4 linked regions of the Homo sapiens genome follow. The protein of the gene in region 3 interacts with the protein of the main gene of each other region in a pairwise test. Each region holds a gene or a part of one and is shown on either strand. Other genes may lie near its edges.

Evidence for each region.
Region 1: the proteins of DAAM2 (region 3) and TTC3 interact in a two-hybrid assay, tested with the Homo sapiens proteins (one large-scale study listed by BioGRID and IntAct).
Region 2: the proteins of DAAM2 (region 3) and KCNIP1 interact in a two-hybrid assay, tested with the Homo sapiens proteins (one large-scale study listed by BioGRID).
Region 4: the proteins of DAAM2 (region 3) and TH interact in a two-hybrid assay, tested with the Homo sapiens proteins (one large-scale study listed by BioGRID).

Annotation. Positions count from the first base shown.
Region 1 is NC_000021.9:37,198,606-37,204,041, reverse strand, and holds the end of TTC3 (E3 ubiquitin-protein ligase TTC3), read right to left. Parts: intron 3,811-5,436; coding exon 3,718-3,810; intron 2,603-3,717; coding exon 2,468-2,602; 3' UTR 935-2,467; downstream 1-934. UniProt on the Homo sapiens protein: E3 ubiquitin-protein ligase which catalyzes the formation of 'Lys-48'-polyubiquitin chains. Mediates the ubiquitination and subsequent degradation of phosphorylated Akt (AKT1, AKT2 and AKT3) in the nucleus.
Region 2 is NC_000005.10:170,509,887-170,515,322, reverse strand, and holds part of KCNIP1 (A-type potassium channel modulatory protein KCNIP1), read right to left. Parts: intron 1-5,436. UniProt on the Homo sapiens protein: Regulatory subunit of Kv4/D (Shal)-type voltage-gated rapidly inactivating A-type potassium channels. Regulates channel density, inactivation kinetics and rate of recovery from inactivation in a calcium-dependent and isoform-specific manner.
Region 3 is NC_000006.12:39,789,846-39,795,780, reverse strand, and holds the start of DAAM2 (disheveled-associated activator of morphogenesis 2), read right to left. Parts: upstream 3,406-5,935; 5' UTR 3,316-3,405; exon of another isoform or gene 1,043-3,315; coding exon of another isoform or gene 1,030-1,042; intron 1,009-1,029; exon of another isoform or gene 990-1,008; coding exon of another isoform or gene 821-989; intron 1-820. UniProt on the Homo sapiens protein: Key regulator of the Wnt signaling pathway, which is required for various processes during development, such as dorsal patterning, determination of left/right symmetry or myelination in the central nervous system.
Region 4 is NC_000011.10:2,166,071-2,170,699, forward strand, and holds part of TH (tyrosine 3-monooxygenase), read right to left. Parts: coding exon of another isoform or gene 4,620-4,629; intron 3,802-4,619; coding exon 3,580-3,801; intron 2,596-3,579; coding exon 2,421-2,595; intron 2,110-2,420; coding exon 2,021-2,109; intron 1,864-2,020; coding exon 1,796-1,863; intron 1,416-1,795; coding exon 1,365-1,415; intron 963-1,364; coding exon 817-962; intron 699-816; coding exon 563-698; intron 480-562; coding exon 410-479; intron 1-409. UniProt on the Homo sapiens protein: Catalyzes the conversion of L-tyrosine to L-dihydroxyphenylalanine (L-Dopa), the rate-limiting step in the biosynthesis of catecholamines, dopamine, noradrenaline, and adrenaline. Uses tetrahydrobiopterin and molecular oxygen to convert tyrosine to L-Dopa.

The sequences.
Region 1 (5,436 bases), on a different chromosome or scaffold from region 3:
ACTTCAATTTTATACCAGGCTATCCATTATTCATAACATAGATTAAGCAGTTCAGCAGGGAAAACTAATCTAAAATCTTTTTTTTTTTTTTTTTTTTTTGAGACGGAGTCTCGCTCTGTCACCCAGGCTGGAGTGCAGTGGTGCGATCTCGGCTCACTGCAAGCTCCGCCTCCCGGATTCACGCCATTCTCCTGCCTCAGCTTCCCAAGTAGCTGGGACTACAGGCACACACCACGATGCCCGGCTAGTTTTTTGTATTTAGTAGAGACGGGGTTTCACTGTGTTAGCCAGGATGATCTCAATCTCCTGACCTCGTGATCCGCCCACCTCGGCCTCCCAAAGTGCTGGGATTACAGGCGTTAGCCACCGCGGCCGGCCTAAATTCTTAAGGAATAGTCATTGCTTTAAATTAAATTAAATGCCATCAGACTAAAAATACGTACTGATAATACTTTGAATACACTTGAAAAAACAGAAGACAGATTTTGAAAATGAGCTTTCTTCAAATGAGCTTTCACTCTGTGAGTGCTCAGCATACCCAGAAGCCCCTCTATAGAGGAAACCCCATCGACAGCCTCAGTGGCCCATAAATCCACAAATGCCTCAAAAAATATACCAAGGAATGCAATTTATCTTCAACATCCTTATATGTATTCACATGAAAAATCTCTTAATTTAGCCTTAAGAAGTAAACTCTATCATCTCTGTGTGAACTCCTATAGTCGATCTTACGCAGGCACAAAGGAAAATTCTGACCCAGGCCCTAAAACGCCCTGAGATCCCTGGTCAGACTCCTCAGACACAGCATGGCGTGGCTGTTCTTTCCTGACGAAAGCACTCTTAAAATGTTAGCATGACATACATGTCCTAAGTTTTCCAGAAGAATGCATTTTTAAACTTCTCTAAGAAAGAATGGACAAGAGTGACAGTGAACTTCTCATTTTAGAATGTTCTTTATTCTGACAGTTGTTGGACAAATATAAGGCATGTTCACAAGTATCTGAAGTTATGTACAAAACACACTCATTCAACGGATGTTCCTCTTCTCCTTTTGTACTTGCTGCTGCAAACTGATCCTCATGCACGTTAACACCCATAGCGCTCAATTCTTATGGATATGCAGACAGTGTTTTGGGGACCACCGTGGAGAATCTGTTTCAAACTAAGGCGTGAGCTTCTAAGAACTAAGTCACTAAGACATCAGAACTCACAGTGAACAAAGGCAGAGGAAGGTGACCAAATCAGCTCATAAACTCATGACTCTAAGTTTCCAGTGGAACAAAGAACACATTGAAAAACATTTTTTGATCCTTCATGTTGGAGAGAAATGGAATGTGACCAGAATTCATGGTTCTATATTTACCACTGTCTAAAAGTCACAAAACAATATCTAATTTTTTCATGGTTTCTAATGCAGTTACAGTTTTGTTCTTAGGTCACAGTACAAGACTGCATGCATACTTTACACAAATATCAAACACAGAACGATTGTAACACAGATACCTCAGGGTTGTCTAAAGACACAGCTTCTCTTTTTGTGGTGGGGTGGGGAAGGAGAATGGTGGTGGCCATTTCCACACACAGCCTGTTGTGTGCTCAGCACGGCTGGATGCGGATCCCAAGCACTCGCTGACTGACTCACAGAAGAGGACAGAAGCTGCTAAGGAAGGCAGCGGAGTTCAAAGAGCAGGCTCCAACCGGGGGCTGGGATGACGGACACACAGCCTCGATTCCAGGGGGAAAAAGTCTTAGTCGATACTAATTAAAAAGTGTTAATGATTTTTGAAAATCAGATTACATCTATAAAAGATGAAAAGCAAACACTTAAAACAATCTAACGGGGGAACATAAAATAATAAAAAATCAAATGCAGATGGGATTTCACAAAGAGGAGATTTGAATCTTTTGGTCTAAATCAGCCAATATTTTAACATTAACTATAAATTATTAAAATATAGTTTGCTTATGCCCATCCTTAAAATGCAGAATCTTTGAGGAAAAATATAGGCATATCAGGAATACAGACTCTTGTAAAAAATTTAAAAAGTCAGTATCATCTCTCTTGTGGAGCTACCAGAACAGGTTTTTCAAACAGAAAAGGGGAACAAACGTGGGGAACAAACGTGGGGCGCTTGGCTATGTTAAGAATTCTTATCACTAGAATACTGCTTCGAGACGTTCATAGTACTTTCCAAAAGAAGCCACCCACCTCAAAGAGCCCTGCGCAGCCCCAGTGACCCATGAGTGTGGTAGCCGTCATTTTATTAGCCACTGTTGGCAATCATCAAAGTATTCACTCAGAGTGGGGAAATTACTTAATATCAGCGATATTAACGATTTCCATGTATTTAGCTTTGTGACACACAATGCACAAGGGTCTTCAAATGTTTGTTTTTTACACCAGTGGTAGAAAATTGTCATTCTTCGGATTCAACACACTGGTGGATGACACTTTAGTGAAGTGTGACTACCTAGAAGAGCAGGAAGGCAGCTCCTGATTCTGACTGGGCCAGCCTCTTCCAGAAGGTGACTCTTCTGTCAGGAGATCACGACCCTGGCAGGCCGGGCAAGCGCTCTGCCCTTTAAGCCACTGCTTAAAGCACTGAAAAGGAGAAAACAAAATCAGAAGATGCCTTCAGGACCATGAGGAAGCTTAGCTCCCCTGTGCTGCTGGGCTCCTTGGCAGGCGTGGCTCACTTGCCCTTGGTCTCTTGGGCCTGGAGCTGCCCAATACTCAGGGACACCAACACCCGCTCAGGCCAGAGTGTGGACAAAGCCCCAGCCGCAAACGATCCCACCTCAGGGTCAGATCCTGAGCGCTCTGGGCCTCCAACCTGGCCTCAGGGGGTGGTCTTGCCCTGATCCCCGGTTCCAGGCTCGGCTCTTCCACTTCAGCTGCGCCAAATTCCAGAGCCTGGCATTCTCGGCCCTATGACCCAATCACTCATTCTTAGCCCATCCCTTGGCCTGGCCTTGGCCCTTGGCTCTGGAACAGCCCTCCAGCCTGCACGCCACACTCCTGCTGCTGCTGCCCACACTGCAGAGGCTGTGGACAGTCAGCTAGCCCAAATATAAGACCCTGTACCCAAGGAGGCACACCACACCAGAGACTTGGCAAGTGGTCTCAATTCCTTTCAGTGAGCATGCTGTATTTATCCCGTTCCAAGGGATTAGCAAATCCCCATGGCAGAGACCTGATCTGTTCTAACCCAGCAGCAGGGGTGCACACAAATGCTCACGGTACCTAGAACACCATGATAGTTCACACACAGATCCCAGAACGGTACGAGCAGGACTGTCCCTGGGTCAGGCAGAAGGGACTCAGCTAGGTTTAGTTTTTCTCCTCTAAAATGTTAAACTGACTTCATATACTACACTAAGTCAAAAAAATGGTTTCACTGTTTCTCCATTTAGTCAAGTGTGTAAGAAATCACCTTTCAAGGAACTAATACTGCTTTGAATCTCAGCACTAACGAGTGGCTGGAGCTGCTGTTCCCCTCTCCCCACAAGGGATGGAAAGGACGGTCTCCAGAGCTGCCCTTCCTGCAGAGCTGGTGTGAGGACAGGGAGGCACTGAACACTGACACGGGAGGTTTGCAAAGAAAATAGTTTGAAAGCACAATAAATACTGATGACTAGAAAACAATTCCTTTCTTATTTTGAAAATATTTGAAGGTCCCAATGCATGCTGTAAGGATGGCCAAAAAGAGCTCTTACCCCTTTGTGATACTTGTGCCCACATTTGAGCACACGCACGTTTTTTGATTTGAACACCTCGTGGCATATTTCACAGGAACTTGCACCCAGTGCCTGTGGAAACAAACACACCTGAATAGTAAAGAATAACTACAGTTGTTTTTATGACACGAGTTCTTCCTTCAAGTGGCCTTCAAACATCTTCTGCCACAAAGGGTGGCAAATTATTCACAATTACAGCTAAACAGTCTGAGGAAACAACTTATTTTTTAATAGCATTTCTTAAGAAAAAATATAAAAATACAAAAAGAAAAGTATAAAGTTCTAATTTCCTCAGAGAAAAAACTGTTTTATGTGACCAGAAGATCCCCAGGTGAAGATTACCATACCTAAAGTACAGTATGGGATAATCACATGGCATGGTGTGAATTAATCATACATTTAATCATCTAACAGTTGAGGGTAGTAAATTCCAACACATCCACACAATGGGCTATTGTGTAGCCAAAAGGAAAATCATGACGGAAGCCCATAATCCCTGACATAGAAAGCTGGCCCCAACAGCCTGCTGAATGAAAGCAGCTAACAAGACAACATGTATCATATATAACTCACTTTTTAATAAAGGGGCTGCATGTATACATACATGCCTAGAAAAACAGTTAACAGTGGTTGCCTCAGGGTAAGGGAGATTTAATCTTTTTCTTTACTATTTTCTAGTTTCTATGAGCATGGATTACTTGTGCAAATCAAAACAAAACAAACGGATGGCTCATCCGGCAAACATCCATGGGCAGGGTTGGTGTCGGGTGCTGGACGCAGAGATGAATGGAGGGCTCTGGCCTCAGCGGCTCACAGTCTGGTGAGCATAGACAGTGCTTTCGATGTGAGAGCAGACCTGAGTGTCGCCTGGGACTCCAGGCACAGTTCTCCCTGCAGCTCACAGCACTTACCCTTACTGCACCATTAACTTCTACTCTAGCTCACTGCCTCTTAACTCTGAGCGCCTTGAAGGCACAAAATGAGTCCCATCTGGGTCTTTAGCAGCTGGCAGAAAACCTAGCTCAAACTCATGCTCTAAAAACCCCTGCTGAGGGAGTGGGCGAATGCAGGCAGCCCTGGCAGTGGGATCAAGTTCAGGGAGTGGCACTGGAGGCATCACCCCAAGGCTGAGAAGACCTTGAACTGCTGTTCAGGGTTTTGCTGTCTCTCCCAAGGCATGACTCGGCCCAGGAGGAGATGGGGCAGATGCTGCAGAAGGAGGGTTCATGCCCCTCCACTGCTGCCCATGACTCGAGGGTCAGGGAAGAAGAGGAAGTGCCAGACCGGGGAAGAGCCATTGAAGGCCTCTCCAATGCCCAGTGCAAAGCTCGGAGCCAGGTTTAGTTTGAAAAAAATATACACTTAACTTGACCGTTTTCTATTTCCTAGAAAAGATGGGCACAGTATATTTCTAACTAAAAGAAAAAAAGGACAACCACAATAAAAAAAAAAATGGAAAACAACCAAAACATTCAGCCCCTCAGAGAACATACAAAGTGTGACTAGCGTATTCAGTTTTGACTAATTCACATATCCATGCATTCAAGAGTTTAGAAAAATATATACCAAAGTGGTAATACTGATTACAGGGCGGGTTTTTAAATGCCCTTTTTATTTGTATTTTCTATTGTATGTAATACTTTGTAATTTGAAAATTAATACTTTTAATTTTAACAAACTATGGTTATCAAATTAGGT
Region 2 (5,436 bases), on a different chromosome or scaffold from region 3:
TGAGAACAGATGCAATAGGCAATCGGGAATGACAGAGGGTCCCTGAGAAGATCAGGACAAGATTCAATGCTCATTGTAGTCCCAGGTTTTCCTCCCTCCTCTTATAATGCACCCTGAGGACATATCAAATCATAAGGCGCTTCTAGGAAATGAGTGAGGCCTGCATTTGGAGTGTCAACATCAAGGGCTTTGGAAGTGGCCAAAGCTGGTGTGAACACTGTTCTTCCACCAGGCATCGGGGCACTTGGGCAAGTCACTTCTTCCCAAGCCTCAGTTTCCTCATCTATAAAATAGGGGGATCAGTGCCTGTCTCTCATAGTGTGAGATTTCATCTGTTACATGGGAATAATCACACTACCTACCACATAGGGTTGTTGTGAGGATTAAATTAGCTTAATGTACCGAAAGCGCTTAGAGTGGTACTTGGCACAGATTGCTATATAAATGTCACAAGGACGATTTAAATGTTATGTTTGTTACTGTTGTTATTTTGTCAACACCTTGCACAGTCCTTGGCATGCAGCAGGTGCCCGATACAGATCGGTTTCTTTCCTTTTCCTGTCTGGTTCCAACTCCAATGCTGAAATACCTCACAGGCACACTCAAGAGATGCTTAAAGCACTAGCAAAGTAGAGGCATCAAAAATTGTGTTTTGAAAGCACATTTTATTTCAGAAAAGTCACTAAAGTAGTCAACATGGGAAAAATCCAAATTTGGCAGACTTCCTTAAACTTATTTTACTGTTTCTCCTTTGAAATGCCTGTGTAGCCCTTGGTGGGGTGAGGCAGGGCGGGGCAGTGGTGGGAGGACCTGATTATTTTAGTGTCAGGGCCTACAGGGCTTAGAGTCCTAATCAGCCCAGGGCTGGATGTATGCAAAGAGGGAAGAAGACAAGGGGAGCCCCTTGCTGCCCTGATTTCGATGGGTGGGGAAGCCTCCTGAAGACACCCCTGCTGAGTGCACAATTTGGACATCTGGGAGAGTCATACATGGGCGAATCCCAGAGATGGAGAGAAAGTGCAGCCTCAGCCACACGGATGCAAATGTGCCAGCTTCCCCCAGGCAGCTGGGAGCTTCATGGTCTCCACCAGAACATCCCTCACTCTGGGTCCAGGGTTGGCATGGGTGAGGAGCTGATGGGGCCAAGAGGAGGCTGTCATTTTCAGTTCCTGGGAGTTGGGAAACTAGCTGTAACTGCTCAGCCTCTTCCTGGGGCTCAGAGGCTTGCTTGTCCTGGATATGCCCTCCAGCTGCAGGCAGGAGCCCAGGTGGTGGAGTGCCTCGCAATCAGATCCACTTCAAGTCCTTGCTTACTAATCACTAGCCAATCAAGAACCTCCCTGCATCTACGTTTCCTACTCTGCAAAGTGAGAATAATAATGAAACCATTACAGGACTCCTACAAAAATAAAAAGATTACTTTTTTGGGGGATCCCCACCAACAGAGAGGTCCTACTAGACCCCCTGGAAAAGGCATTTGACTTTCATTCCCCAGGCCCTACCTGTGTCTGTTTAGACTCCTACTTTAGTCACATTTTCTGGCTTCAAATCCCACACAAAGGCTCTGTATGTAAACCAGGCTGCCATCCTGCTCTGGGATTCTGAACATTATCAGTGAAATCCATTATGCAGGCAAGTCTCTAGTTGCAGTCCACATGGCTCTGTCCTGCACCCTGTTCTGGCCCATGTTCTTAGAAGCAACTTAGATAAAGACCTAGAATGCCTCCTTATCATTTCTTCAGGTAGCAGAAAACTTGGAGGTACAGCTAAGATGATGGCTGGTGGAGTCAAGATTCAGGATCTCTGTTGGCTGGAATAACATTTAAAATGAGTAAACTAAAACTTAATGGGCGTACATCATCCTGCACTTCTTTGTTGTTAAAAAGAAAGAGAGAGAAAGAAAAACAGACAAGCTTGATTGCAGAAATGCAAATCTGGAAATCTGACTTCTTAACAATTTATATGAGATGACCAGGGCTGGGGTTCGGATGTCAGGCCTAACACTTGAGCTGTGTGATTGTGGGCAAACCACTCACCTTCTCTGGATTCTATTTTCTTATTTGTAAAATGAGGCTTAAATCAGAAGTCTTAGCAAAAGCCTCTTCTGGCTTGATATATAATTTTGTGTAATACAATACACATAGTTCCATAATCTGTACTTTAGGCCAGTATTCCTCAGACTCCAGTGGGCATATAAACCATCTGGTGATCTTGTTAAAATGCAGGTTCTGACTGGGTAGGTCTCACTGAGTTGAGGTTTTTTTTTTTTTTCCAAGATGGAGTCTCGCTCTGTCGCCCAGGCTGGAGTGCAGTGGCGCGATCTCGGCTCACTGCAAGCTCCACCTCCTGGGTTCACGCCATTCTCCTGCCTCAACCTCCCGAGTAGCTGGGACTACACGCGCCCGCCACCACGCCTGGCTAATTTTTTTGTATTTTTAGTAGAGACGGGGTTTCACCGTGTTAGCCGGGATGGTCTCTATCTCCTGACCTCATGATCCGCCAGCCTCGGCCTCCCAAAGTGCTGGGATTACAGGCGTGAGCCACCGCGCCTGGCCGGGACTCTGTATTTCTAACAAGCTCCCAACTGATGCTGAGGCTGTTGGTTGGAGGAGCACACTTTAAGTGGAGTAGACCCAGATAGTAACAATTTACCTTTAGCGCATTCTGAGTGCTGACCGCTGCATCTTACATGCATGACTGCATTTAATCCTCATAACAACCTGGGAGGGAATTATCAACAATACTTTCATTTTCTAGATTATGTAGAGATGAAAGTTCACAGAAGCGAGGTAACCTGCTCAATGTCACACAGCTAATGAGTTGCAGAGCCAGGATTTGAATTCTAGGTCTGCCTAACCAGGAGTGTATGCTCATAACAACCGTATAACATACGCAGGTGATTTGGGCCAACATGTGGCTAAGGAGAGAAAGGAGATGAGCAGTAAGGTACTTGCAAATGTACTAGCAAGTTCTTGTGTTTTTTTCTTAGCAGTGATAACCACTTGTAAACCGACTGATCTCCTTGCCCACCTGGACCGTGTGAAAACTCTGATCCTGGTCCCTGGTTCTGAACGTTTGCAATTCTAACATACTTGGAAGATATTTAAACACTCTATCTTCACTGACAGGCAATGATGGCTATAACAAAGAGAGAAAATTTTAGTTCACATAAATGATTAGAGCAGAGGAGAGATGTTTAATCCTATTAATGAATTTGCTAATTGGCCTTCTGCCCCCAATCATTTCATATTCAGGCTTCCACAGTGTCAGATGAAATGGAAACAGATCTAGGGGGAGGCGGGGTTGGGATGGGGCTAAAAGCATTTTGCTCAGGGCCTGCACGTAGCTCAGTTGTTCCGTGTGGCTAATGAGGTGCTTCAGTCTATCCTTGAATGCCTTCTCCCCAACATCCATGCACCCGTTTTGACTGTTTTTCTACTCAGGTCCCTAAGGTTCCAGAGGCAAAGCCAGGAGGAGAGGAGGTTAGTATGGCAGTTAGAAGCTCAGGGTCTGGGATCAACCAGAACCAGGCTCTGCGATTCCCAAGCTCTATGACCCTTAGTAAGGCACTTCCCTTTTTAGAGCCTCAGGTTCCTCAACTGCAAAATGAGAACTGTAATAGCATCTTGTCCTCCAGGGTTGGGGTTAATAAAATAACACAGGAAAGAGCCGAGCAAGGTGCCTGGCACTGGGTGGAGGCCAGAGTCATTTGAGCTAGTATTATTATCCTTCCTGGCGGGTGACCTGCATTTTCATACCTCACTGTTGGGAATTGCTTTTACCATCTAAAGTTGACAGCTTCCCTTAGGAATCACCAGAGAAACTGCTTAGAATGCCAGTGACCATGGATATGGTGGCTCGGGATCTCAGAGGGCTGGAATCAGAGGCCACAGCTCAAAGGGATGGGGAGATTACCAAGGGTAACACCGTCATCATCCAAGTGGAGCAAGGCAGAAGGAAGGGGCCTGTCCTGAGATGGGACAAAAGGCAGCAGCAAAGCCAGCACTGCCAACTCACCTGGTGTGCAGCACCATGTTCAATTCCTTCTTGGCCCTCACGTGGCCCTATAGGGAGACACTGTCATTGTCCCCATTTTTTAATTTTTATTTTTTTTGAGACGGAGTCTCGCTCTGTCATCCAGGCTGGAGTGCAATGGTGCAGTCTTGGCTCACTGCAACCTCCGTCTCCTCGGTTCAAGCGATTCTCCTGCCTCAGCCTCCTGAGTGACTGGGATTACAGGAGCATGCCACCATGCCCGGCTAATTTTTGTATTTTTAGTAGAGATGGGGTTTCACCATATTGGCCAGGCTGGTCTTGAACTCCTGACCTCGTGATCTGTCCACCTTGACCTTCCAAACTGCTGGGATTACAGATGTGAGCCACCATACCTGGCCCACTGTCCCCATTTTATAGAAGAGGAAACTGAGGCCTGGAAAGGCTCAGCTATGAACCAATGAAAGGGAGTTCAATCCCAAGACTCTTATTTTAACGCGGTGCTCATAGCCATAATGCAATCCTACTTCTAGCTTCCTGATTTGAGTGGAATGTGGTTCCTACTTCCCCCCACCGCACCAATGAGGCTTTTAGTCTGGCCTTGAATAACAAGATTTAATCCAAAGTACTACTCCCATGGCTGGGGTACGGGAAGCTAGCAATATCCCAACTGACTACCACTACTTCCAGAAGGTGACCTATTTAAAATACTACCCGGAGGAAGGGGAAGCATTTAAAGAGATGTTTCTCTGAAGGCCCTAGGACTCTTAGGCTCTCTCTCTCTTTTCTAAAAACTGTTCCTTCCCTGCCTGATGAATGGGAACATCAGCTCCACGGCCATTATGCAGAATTTTGCAGAGCTTCTCCCCAGGAGCAGACCTGGATTCCTCATCTGCACCGCCGCATTCTCACACCGCTCAGAGCCATCAAGAACGCACACTCTGGCCCATCCATCCTTACCTCCATGCCGCCAGCATCCATCAAGCCTGGATGCAGTGTCAGGCCTGACAGAGGCCCTGGGATAAGACTCAGTGCCTGAAAGCTAGTCAGAGAGATAAATGTGTAAACCCATAATGACAACCTCATAGTGTGTTCAGAATTGTAGTTAAGGGAAGCAGCAGCAGCTATGGGGAAAGAGAGAAGGCAGAGATGTGCTCTGCCTACAGAAGCCAGGAAAGGCTTCCCAGAGCGGTGGCATTGAATGAGGCCTTGAAAGATAAGTAGGAGTTGGCCAGGTGAATGAGGAGATGGAGGAAGAGGGAGGATGAGGAAGCCAGAGTGGATCTTAGGCAGGGAAGCAATGCTGAAGGACAATTGTGGGACTGGCTAAGTGAACAAATAAATGAGTGGATAAATATACAGATTCTGATCTCACCCAGGCAAGGGTGAACGAACCTGAAATATAAGGGAAGACAAGGGGAATCACTGTGAGTCAGTCCCTGC
Region 3 (5,935 bases):
GCTCATGGAATATCTTCATTGGTCACCTTTTCTAGAGGAAGGAAGTAAGGATGATCAGAGCCCTAGAAACTCCACCCACTAGCCTTCAATCATGGAAAATATGTAGCTAGATTTGGGGAGAGGTTCTTTCCAAGCAATACTGGCTTGTGATGGCTGAAAAACTGAAAAATAAAAATACAGCACTCCCTTTATGAAGGGTCTTATAACATTCTGAGCTCTGTTCTTAGTTCTTGTGCATAAATGTTTTCATAATGACCTGGGGAGGGAAATACTATCCTTATTTTACAGATGAGGAAGCTGAAGCTCAGAAGGAATAAGTCATGTAGCCCAGGTTACTAATTCGTATTTAGGTCACAGTTCTCTCTCTCCAGGCAGCTGATCAGAAATCTGCACTCTTTCCATTGTTGTCGGGCTGCCTCTGAAGTCTAGGGCTGAATGACACAGGATCCTTGACAGAGTCTCTGGCTGTTGAGATCTAGAGGGTCATCCGCTATCAAAGCCAAGGATATCCTTCAACTTGTTCTTTCTGCCAGCTGTGTTTGCCCTCTGGACCTTCAAGGATGTCTTGGAATGCATCCCATCTACTTAATCTAATCTCAAAGATGACCAAAGAGCTGGCCAGAAGATTGAACTGATAGAATGAGCCATGAGAAGGCTTCAATGTCAGCCTAGGCATCCATGGCCTGGGAATTCATCCCGGCCATAGTGAAATGTCTCCTAGTACAAGCCCAGAAGCATCAGGACTCCACTGATCCCACATGCAGCACTCCCAGAAACCCCACATGTAGAAAGAGTTGAAAACCCAGTTCTTGCCCCTCACCTGTCCCTGAGGAGTTGTATGCTGGGATAAGAGTATTTCTGGGAATCCTGTTCCGAGGGGTCCCTTCTGTCCCTGGGTAGTCTTCTATGTTTAAATAATGGAAATGAATGAGAACATTTAAACTTGTTACTTCCATTGGCTCTAGTAAAATCAAATAAGAAAGCCTCATCTTTCATTATCTCTATGCTTTCTCTACTGCCTGTACTTACCCTTTATCTTCATTCTTTACACCTGGATCCAAGGCTCTTTAGTAATGGGGAGTTTAATCTGTTTTGCATCAAAAACTTTGGAGACAGTCGGGAAAGAAGACTGGGGAGAGAACATGTTCTCACAGCAAGCAGTAGTATTTCAACTTCCTCCACGCTCACCAAAAACAAAATCATTTACAGGCCTTCCTATTGGTCTTGCCTGCACAGCCTCCGCCTTCTTGAGCCCCTGACTCTCTAAGTTCTAATGCCCAGGAGAATGTTCTCTCCTCTTTTTGTCCTGATGGGGGCACGAGTATTCCCTCAGCATCCGAGGCGCTGGAGGAAAAGCTCTGAAAACTCAGCTGGGAGTTAGGAGCCAGAGTTTGCAACTACCAGGGAGCAAGACAATAATAGCACAGTTGTTTGCATAAAGGAAGAAATGGGGGTTAGATGGAGTTCCCAGCACAGATGAAGAAATAGACCATTTATCCTCCCATGTCTAAGGCCATGGCCATCACCACACAGTCATGTATGTGTAAAAACACATAGGCATGTGCATCTCATGGGGACCAGTCACTCCTGTTTACATGCACCCTTGTTTACATTGCCTATGGGATGATTTCCTCCTCCTTCATTACACTTCAGTTGACAACGTACTCCTGAAGTTAAATGAGTCTGTTTCTGACATTGCTGCCTGCTCCATCTTTTATGGAGCTTCCCTGGGGTTCAATTTATATAATTTCTAAAATCCTTCCTGAATCTTAACTTCCTGTGGGTCTGTTTTTACATCCAGATTTCCTCCCTGTCCCTTCATTTTCTCATTTTTCTAGGACAGAGGGAGAGTCCAGTAATCTTCCTCCCACCCAGACATTGTAGGTTGGCTCTACTGCAAAATACAAAACCAGAGACCTGGCTAGCTCAAAGCTGAAAATTCAGTCTGTCTGTGGTCACTCGTTTGTGGAACCCAGCTATTGACAGGCAGTGCCTGGCACTGTGCTACTCAGGGATGATGGATCGATACAGCCTCACTGCTGCTTTTTTCCCCTACTCTCCGTGGAGCACACTTTCCGCCCTAGGCCCTAGGGAAAATCCATCCCCCGCTTCAGCTGGCTTTGCAAAGAAACTCAGGAAACTAACACCAAACTCAGAAGGGGGAAAACACAAGACTTTGAACTTTTTAAAGATGGGAAGCTGCTTTCATTCCCACGTGGGCATCAAGGGAAAACCTATGGGGACTCTTTTCCGGAGAGGTGTGATTTTCCTCTAACCCTCCGAGAAACGTTCCAAATCCACTCCAAAACTGTGGAGAAGTGGCCGAGGCAGAGAGAGAAGAGTTAAATCAAGCCCAGATCTCAGCAATCTGTGTTCAATTTTGATAAAAATCTCCCTCTCCCCCACCGCCCCCCTTCCTCCACCCCACAGCTCAGACACGTCTCTTTATGTTAGGAGCTTGCATCTTGTTTGGGGCACCACACGCGGCACTCCTGGAGAACCTGGCACGTACCTCACCGTGGCCATGTGGCAGAACCAACCATCCCACTCCCAAGCTACGGCTGGACACAGGGCCACAGCGTCCTGGCCATCACCACCACCTCCCCCTCTTCCTTCTCATCCTCTTCACAAAATTACCTGCCGCCAGACCAAGTCCCTCATTCCCCGGTTAAGTCAGAGTCCCGACGCCTGGTAAAGTCAGGGCATGAGGTTGGTTTGCGACCGCAGGTGCTGAGAGCCCCAGAGTCCGGGGACCCCTTTCCTGAGATGCTCCTTCCCCCGCCCAGGGTCCCACTGCCACTGAGAACAAGAACCTTACGGCTGCCCTGCCCACTGGCCAGAGGCCAGGCCTGCAAGTGGGAGCTGGGGGCTTGTGAAGACTTCAGCCCAGCCAAGTGAAGGTTCAAGCCGAACCCGGAAAAGCCACCACCAAAAAGTTGTCAGTTTTGCGGGGTATCTTCTGTGTTTGTCCACTTGTGACAACCAGGGGTCAGGTTTCAAAGCCGCAAAAAACATTTTTAAAAAGTTTTCCAAAGACATTTCCTATGTCCAGATGTGCCAGTACAGACACACGCAATCACACTCATACACACACACAACTCACACACACACAGGCCCTGGGAGCCCACTCCGGGGTCGGCGGCTCCTGCAAACACTTTGGAGAAACAAAACCGCCAGCCTGCGGAGCTGCTGCCTCCCCAAGCCCCGCGGGGCATGCTAAAGAAAGCAGAGGGAGAGAAGTGTGGGAGCCCAGCGGAGAGGGCTCCCCGCGGCCCGGGCCCCAAGACGGGGAGCGCCAGGGCCGGCCGCACTTACTCCGAGGACCCCAGGGCGCCCGCGCTCCCGCAGCCCGAGGTACGGCGCCGCCGCCCGCGCTCCGCTCGCTGCTGCGTGCTCCGCGCTATCCCCGGGAAGCCGCGGCTGCCGCCCCTCCAGGCCCGGCCTCGCGCCCGTCCGCCCGCCCCGCTCTGACGTCAGGCGTCTTGGAGCGGGATATTTATGGCAAGGTTACTCTGAATTTTCCCTAGGTAGACTTCTGATTGCAGTTTCTTGGGATTTGTAATTTTCACACTTTCAGACCGAACGCAGGCGGGGGGAGAGCGCCACCGGCAGGGCGAGGCGTACAATGAGGGTAGCTGTTCCCCACTTTGGCAGGGAGCGTTCTCAGGGCCCCTTCTGTTTTGGAAACATGGAAGGGTCAAAGAGGCAAAAGTGGCCACCTGGGCAGCGGGTTTCTCCCCGGCTCCTCCTCTGGGCTACGGGCAAATGGCCTGGTCTGAGGCCGGCTCGGAGGTGAAGGTCCCGGTGCCAAGGAATCCCCTGTCCCTCCCCAAAGTGTCCCTGCACTGGACAGTGTGTCCCAAGGGGTGCTGGGCAAGACAGGAGCGAAATCAGGCACAACAGAACAGCTAATTAGGAGTCCTGGTCCACGCCCTAACAACTTTTCCATTTCTTTTTTGGGAGTGTATATATATTTTTTTAAGTTTATTTTTATTAAATTATGTTCCACACTCCCTGCCTCTGTATAGCTTTTCCAATTCAGTGCCAGTCAATTCATCTTACTTCATTGCTTGTATGCATAGTTTGAGCAGTTTACAATAGCTCTTATTCATACTTTTAAAATTTCCTTTTAGTTTTTTTTTTTCTTTTTTTTTTAAATGTGATTGTGGTCTGTCTCCTTGACTGAACTAGAGATTGCTTTGGTCAAGAGCAATTGTCCTCTCTGGGATTGGCAACACCCTCACGGGGAGTATTTGATCTTCTCTGTTTCCTATTTTCCCCAGCTCCCTCTGCAAGCAAATGGTGCCCCCACTGGGTGATGACCTGTATACAGTTTTCTGGGTGTTCAGTGGTTGTTCTGTGTTAGTGGTTGTCTGTTTCTCCACCTCACCAAAGGGGCTTAGGGAAATGGCTTGGTTTAAGGGCCACCCTTCCAGAGAAAAAAAGAGAATGTAATGCATGATCTTCCAGAGGAAAAAAAAAAAAAAAAGAGAATGTAATGTGTTATCCTTCATGGTTCCCAAGGATTGGAGAATGAAATGAACTTAAAATGATACACGTGAGATGCAAAATACTTATATGGTTAGACAACATAAGTGTTTAGGTATTCATCTCACCATGAATGGGAGGGGGCACGGATAATTGCAAATCATCATTAAAACACAACTATAGTGAACTTTCCATTAGCCCAAACTGGTAGAGGCGGGGTTGTGTTTTAACCACAGTTACAGTGCAGCAGGGACTCAAGGACTTGGAATGTGTTTACCTCTTTGGCAGCAGCTGGTTAGAGCTGATTGCCAGAAGGAGCTGTCTTAGGGCTGGGCCTCTCGGTAGAGGCCACGCTGTTTTGACCCAAGCCACCGAGGGCCCTGCAGCAGGGAGCTGCTGTTTGGTCACTGTGGGATTGCTCTCCCTGGCATAATACCCCACTTTTACCTCCTTCCATTCCCTCTCTCATATCAAGGCTCCACTGGCAAGGTGAGCTCTGTTCTTCAGCAGACCCTGCAAATAGGTTTCCAGAAGCCATTGACAAACCCATTCTCCCTTGCCTTTCTCAACTAAAGAAGTTAGAAATCTACAATATTCACCATCCCAGACTCCCTGGTAGCTCACAATTGCTATGAGACCAAGTTCTGACCAGTGAGATTGTAATACAGAAGACAGAGGATGCCTTCCACAAACTCTCTTTAAGAGAAGATCAGATTTGGCCAGGCGCGGTGGCTCACGCCTGTATTCCCAGCACTTTGGGAGACCGAGGCGGGCGGACCACGAGGTCAGGAGATCGAGACCATCCTGGCTAACACGGTTAAACCCCGTCTCCACTAAAAAATACAAAAAATTAGCCAGGCGTGGTGGTGGGCGCCTGTAGTCCCAGCTACTTCGGAGGCTGAGGCAGGAGAATGGCGTGAACCTAGGAGGCGGAGCTTGCAGTGAGCCGAGATTGCGCCACTGCACTCCAGCCTGGGCGACAGAGCGAGACTCCGTCTCAAAAAAATAAATAAATAAATAAATAAATAAATAAATAAATAAATAAATAAAAACACAAAAAAAGATAGGGCCAGAGACTCAGAGGTGGCAGGTTGGGGACATCATGAGGACAGAAACAGGGGAAGTGAGGCTGAGGAGCAAGCATTCTAGGTCTGGGAGAGGGGAGTCTCTCCATCCTTGCCCAAGTGTTTTGGAGGCAGGGTCTCTCTCTGTCACCTAGGCTGGAGTGCAGTGGCACGATGATAGCTCACTACAGCTTCGAACTCCTGGGCTCAAGGGATTTTCCCACCTCAGCCTTCCCAGTAGCTGGGACTACAGGTGCATGCCACTAGGCCCTGCTAACCTTTTTTTTTTTTTTTTTTTTTTTTTTTTTTGTAGCGATGTGGTCTTGCTATGTTTCCCAAGCTAATCTCAAATTCCTGGTCTCAAGCAATTCTCTCAACTCGAG
Region 4 (4,629 bases), on a different chromosome or scaffold from region 3:
GAGGATGAAGGATGGGGAGAGGCAGCCCTGGGTCATGCTCGAGGTGGGGGCACCGGGGGTGTCAGCAGCCCCTCCAGGGGTCTCTGGGACACTTCCCTGGCGGCAGAGACCTTCCCTGGCCGCCCAGGATCCGCACCTCCACCGGGCCTCCTCCTCCAGGCAGCCCTCCTTGACCACATTCCTAAGCCCGTGGGCGCCGTTCCCAGGTAGCCGGCAGGTGGCAGCACAGGCCGTGGGAGGCTCCGCTCCAGCCCCGCCCTATGCCGCGCGACCCTCGGGGCGCCGAGCCTCCTTGGCGGGGCCCGGGAGCAGGCAGCACACTTCACCCACCCGCACATCGATCCCCGCCCGCCCCCGGCGCCAAGCCAGCCCCTGGGTGACCCCGGCTCCCTCCGAGGCCGCGGCGTACCTGCGAGAACTGCGCGAAGGTGCGGTCGGCCAGCATGGGCACGTGCCCCAGCAGCTCGTGGCAGCAGTCCCTGCGCGTAGGAGGGAGAAGGGGGCTGAGGGGCCGCCCGTCGCACCCCCCACCCTCGGGCTGGCGGCCAGGGCGCGCACTCACGGCTCAGGGGAGTGCATGGGCGAGGACGCGTGGCGGATATACTGGGTGCACTGGAACACGCGGAAGGCCAGGCTGGCCAGGAAGTCCCGGGCGGACAGCAGGCCGGCCACAGGCCGCAGCTGGAAGCCCGTGCGCTCTGCAAGGGGCCACGCGGGTCACTGCCGAGCCGGGACGGGCTGGAGCCGCGCTGGGGTGGGGCGCTTGGCTGACCATCCCCGGCCCCCCGGCTCTGCGCCCCTCCCGTCTGGGCACACCCTTCAGGAAGCGGGAGACGTCCTCCAGCTGGGGGATATTGTCTTCCCGGTAGCCGCTGAAGCGCTCCAGCAAAGCAAAGGCCTCCAGGTGCTCCCCGCAGGCGTGCGTGGCGTAGAGGCCCTTCAGCGTGGTGTAGACCTCCTTCCTGCGGGCAGCCAGGCTCAGGGCCCTCTAATGCCCCACCCCAGTGCCCGAAACCCCCCTCCTGAACTGTGGGTGCCTCTGCCTGCCTGAGCCCCTACCAACGCAGGCCTCTTGGGGACCCCTGAAGACCCAGGCCCCCGGGAGGGGCTTTTGCTGGTGGCTTTAGGGAATCCCAGGGGATAGGGGGCCATGAGGGGCGGTCCCTCAGCACACTGGGGATGGCCCGACAGGATGGGTAGCCTCTTCCTCCCAACCCAACATTCTGAGCCCTGCAAGTCCCTCTTCTTCCCGGCCTTAGTCTCTCCTGTTGTGCCAAGGTCCCTGGAGGCGGCCCTCACACGCCAGGATTCCAGGAGGCATCCCCCGGGCTCCTCCCCAGCCCCTAGCTGCACGGAGGTCTCACCAGGTGGCAATCTCCTCGGCGGTGTACTCCACACGGGGAATCGGGTCGCCGCTGGGGAGGGGGCCAGTGGTCAGCAGGTCCCCTCGGGGAGTGAGAAGGGCAGGAGGGAGGGAGGGAGCTTCACTGGGCACAGGTCCACACCCGCCTAGTGCAGCGAGGCCTTTGGGTTGGAGGATGGACAGGAGGGTGCACCCCAGCTGACTGTGCCGTGAGCCGGCTATGTGGCCTCGGCAGGTTGCTCTAGCCCCCCTGGGCCTCAGTTTCCCCACTGGGATTTGGGGACATGGAAAGCCCTGGAGCAGAGCTGCCTGGCAGGAGGCACTGATGCTGGTGACAAGATGGGTCCTCCCCTTTGTCCTTCCCTCCCACCCCCCAGGTCCAGCGTCAGCCTGCAGGACGGAGTCTGGGTCCCGAGCGCAGGGGCCCCTCACTGCCTGTACTGGAAGGCGATCTCAGCAATCAGCTTCCTGCGCTGGCGGTACACCTGGTCCGAGAAGCCCTGAGGGCAGAGGGGATGCACGGGTCAGGAGGCTGTGCTGGGGTGGGGGCACAGGCCACGGAGGCTCCTGGAGCCGACAGACTCCTGTCCAGGGTTGGGCTAAGGGTAGGGGATGTGATCAGGGGCAGGAGGCCTGAGTGAGGGGCGCACCACTCACCGGGTGGTCCAAGTCCAGGTCAGGGTCGAACTTGGTGACCAGGTGATGACACTTGTCCAGCTCTGACACTTTTCTTGGGAACCAGGGGACTTTATGGGTGATGGAGGAAGAGATCTTGGTGAGCTCGGAGCCGTGGGGCTGTGTCACCCACCTTGAAGCAGCCTCCCCTACAAGACTTCCGGGGGGCAGAGGCAGCCGGGGCTGTGAGAGCTGCGGGGGGATCCTGGAGTGGCCCCAGGCCCGGACACGGATGTGTAGCAAAACGGGGTGCGGAGTGGAGCCCGCAGAGAGGGAACCAGGCCACCACCACGTGGTCACTGTAGGGTCCCCCTGCAGGAGCCCCTGCACCCCAGCCTCTCAAGGTCATTTGGTGGCCCTCAAGGACAGAAAACCGCCTCACCCTTGGGCCCCGCGGGGCTGCGCACGTCCTCTGACACCTGGCGCACACCACTGAGCAGGGCGGCCAGGTCCCCTCGGCGCACCTCGAGGCGCACGAAGTACTCCAGGTGGGGGCCCCCAGCTCGCGGCCTCTGGGCGGGCCGGGTCTCTAGATGGTGGATTTTGGCTTCAAACGTCTTAGGGAGCAAAAGCAGGAAGAGAGAGAGAAGGAGAAAGAGACAGAGATGGAGAGAGAGGGTGGGGTGGGCGGGGAGGAGGCACATCTGGCTGGCTGGCCAGGCCCTGCCCTTGACTTTTGTGCTAGCAGCACACAGATCCCGTTCTTCCAGGCTCAGGTCAGCTGTCGGCCACCAGGCCAGGGTTTGCCACTGGCAAGTTGGATTTTGTGTTACGTGCCTAACCAGGAGTTGTCACCGCTTGAGGCTTAACCTGGTTCTGGGCGGCTCGGTGTGTGTGTCCCAAGGCCATGCCACACAGTCCGGCTCCTCAGCCACTGGTCAGAAGGTGCCCCCAACCCTGGTGGCCTCATCCAGGTTTGTAGGATGGGCCCTGAGTCTCACTGGCCCCTGAGCGTCCAGGACACTGGCCAGAAGGGTCCGCTCCACCCCCACCTCCTGTTGCCTAGCAACAAGGGCGGTGGGTCGCAGTGGCCCTCGGGCCACAAAACTGGCTCTGGGAGCTGGGGGGCGGGGAGTCTGGCTTTAATGTCATTTGGGAGCTTCTTCCGGGAGCTGGGTCACCTGCCTCCCGGGGCACAGTGGGGCCGGAGTGACTAATGCAATCAGTGGTCACCTGAGCCACTGTGCTGGGTGGGTGGGAGAGGGCACACTGCCCTGCCCCTGCCTCTTGTGCTGCCCTGCTGGGAGCCCCCCACGTGGGAAATGGTGGGTGAGGGGGATCCAGGGGATGGGCAAGGCAAGAGGCACAGTGGGGCTTGGTAGCCTCAGCCCTAGGGGTGGGCTCAGGATCCCTCAAAAACACGGGGGTGTGGCTAGATGCCATGGGGGCTGAGCTGAGGCCTGAGACTCCCCTGCTGCATCCTGTGCCGGCCTCGGGGGCCTGGGCAGCTGCACCTCTGCTATAGAGGGGTCAGGAACTCAGCCCACACAGCCCCACCCACAGGTGAACTTGCCCCAGGGACACGAAGGCCACCAGCTCACCTCAAACACCTTCACAGCTCGGGACAGCGCCGAGGGCTTGGTGGCCCTCGGGGAGAAGAGCAGGTTTAGCACGGCCTTCCCCTCCTTCTCCTCAAAGGCCACAGCCTCCAGGGGGTCCCCGGGCTCCGAGGGGACTGCAGCGGCCGCTGCTGCCACCGCCGCCTCCCGCTCCTTGCGGGCGTCCTCGATGAGGCTCTGCCTGCGCCCAATGAACCGCGGGGACTGTGGGGACAAGGGGCACCCATGCCTCCTCCACCTGCTGAGACCCGGGGACCTCCACCCACAGCTGGTCCCACAGTCGGGCAGCGCTGATGGCACACAGAGGCAGGGGATGAGAGCACGTTTTTGAGCGCCTACTGTGTGCCTGCTGGGGCAGATGCTAGCCGAGGTGCCTGCGGGCATTGCACGCCCTTCCCGATGGGGGCAGCCCAGTCAGAAGCAGTGGTGGTGGGGGAGGAGTGGGGGCTGGGAAGGTGCTCGCCTGCTCCCCACTCTGTGGCGAGCAGACAGACAGAGACGCTGTGTCACTCATCCCCAGGCCAGGCGCTAACTGGATTAGTGATGGGAAGAGGGCGATGTCTTGATGGACAGTGGCATCGGCTGCCGGGGAGGGAACGGCAGCTCAGGAAGGAGCTGCCCCCACAGGGCCCCAGTGAACAACCCCCCTACCCTCCTGGCTGCCGCACAGGGGACCCTTTCTCACACTCCCATCAGGACACCTGTCCTCGGGCCCTGCCCCTCTGTGCCACCCCGCAGGCGCCCGCTCCTGGCTGCCTTGTCATCCCTCCACCCTTTGTCATAGCTCTGGGCGCAGGTGTCTCTCCCTGGGCTCAGCGCCTCTGACCCCTCGATCCCAGAGCCGTCCCAGGCCTGGACAGAGGGGGACTTGGCAGACACCTGGGGCTCATCCCTTGGAGCTGAACTCCCAAGAAGGCTCTGGGCCCCTTGTAAGAGAAGAATCAGCTTCATCCTGAGCTTCCAGGGTTGTGGAACATGAAGGGGAGCAGCAGAAGCCCCTCCCAGAGTCCCCTCTTACTTACCCTTGGGGTG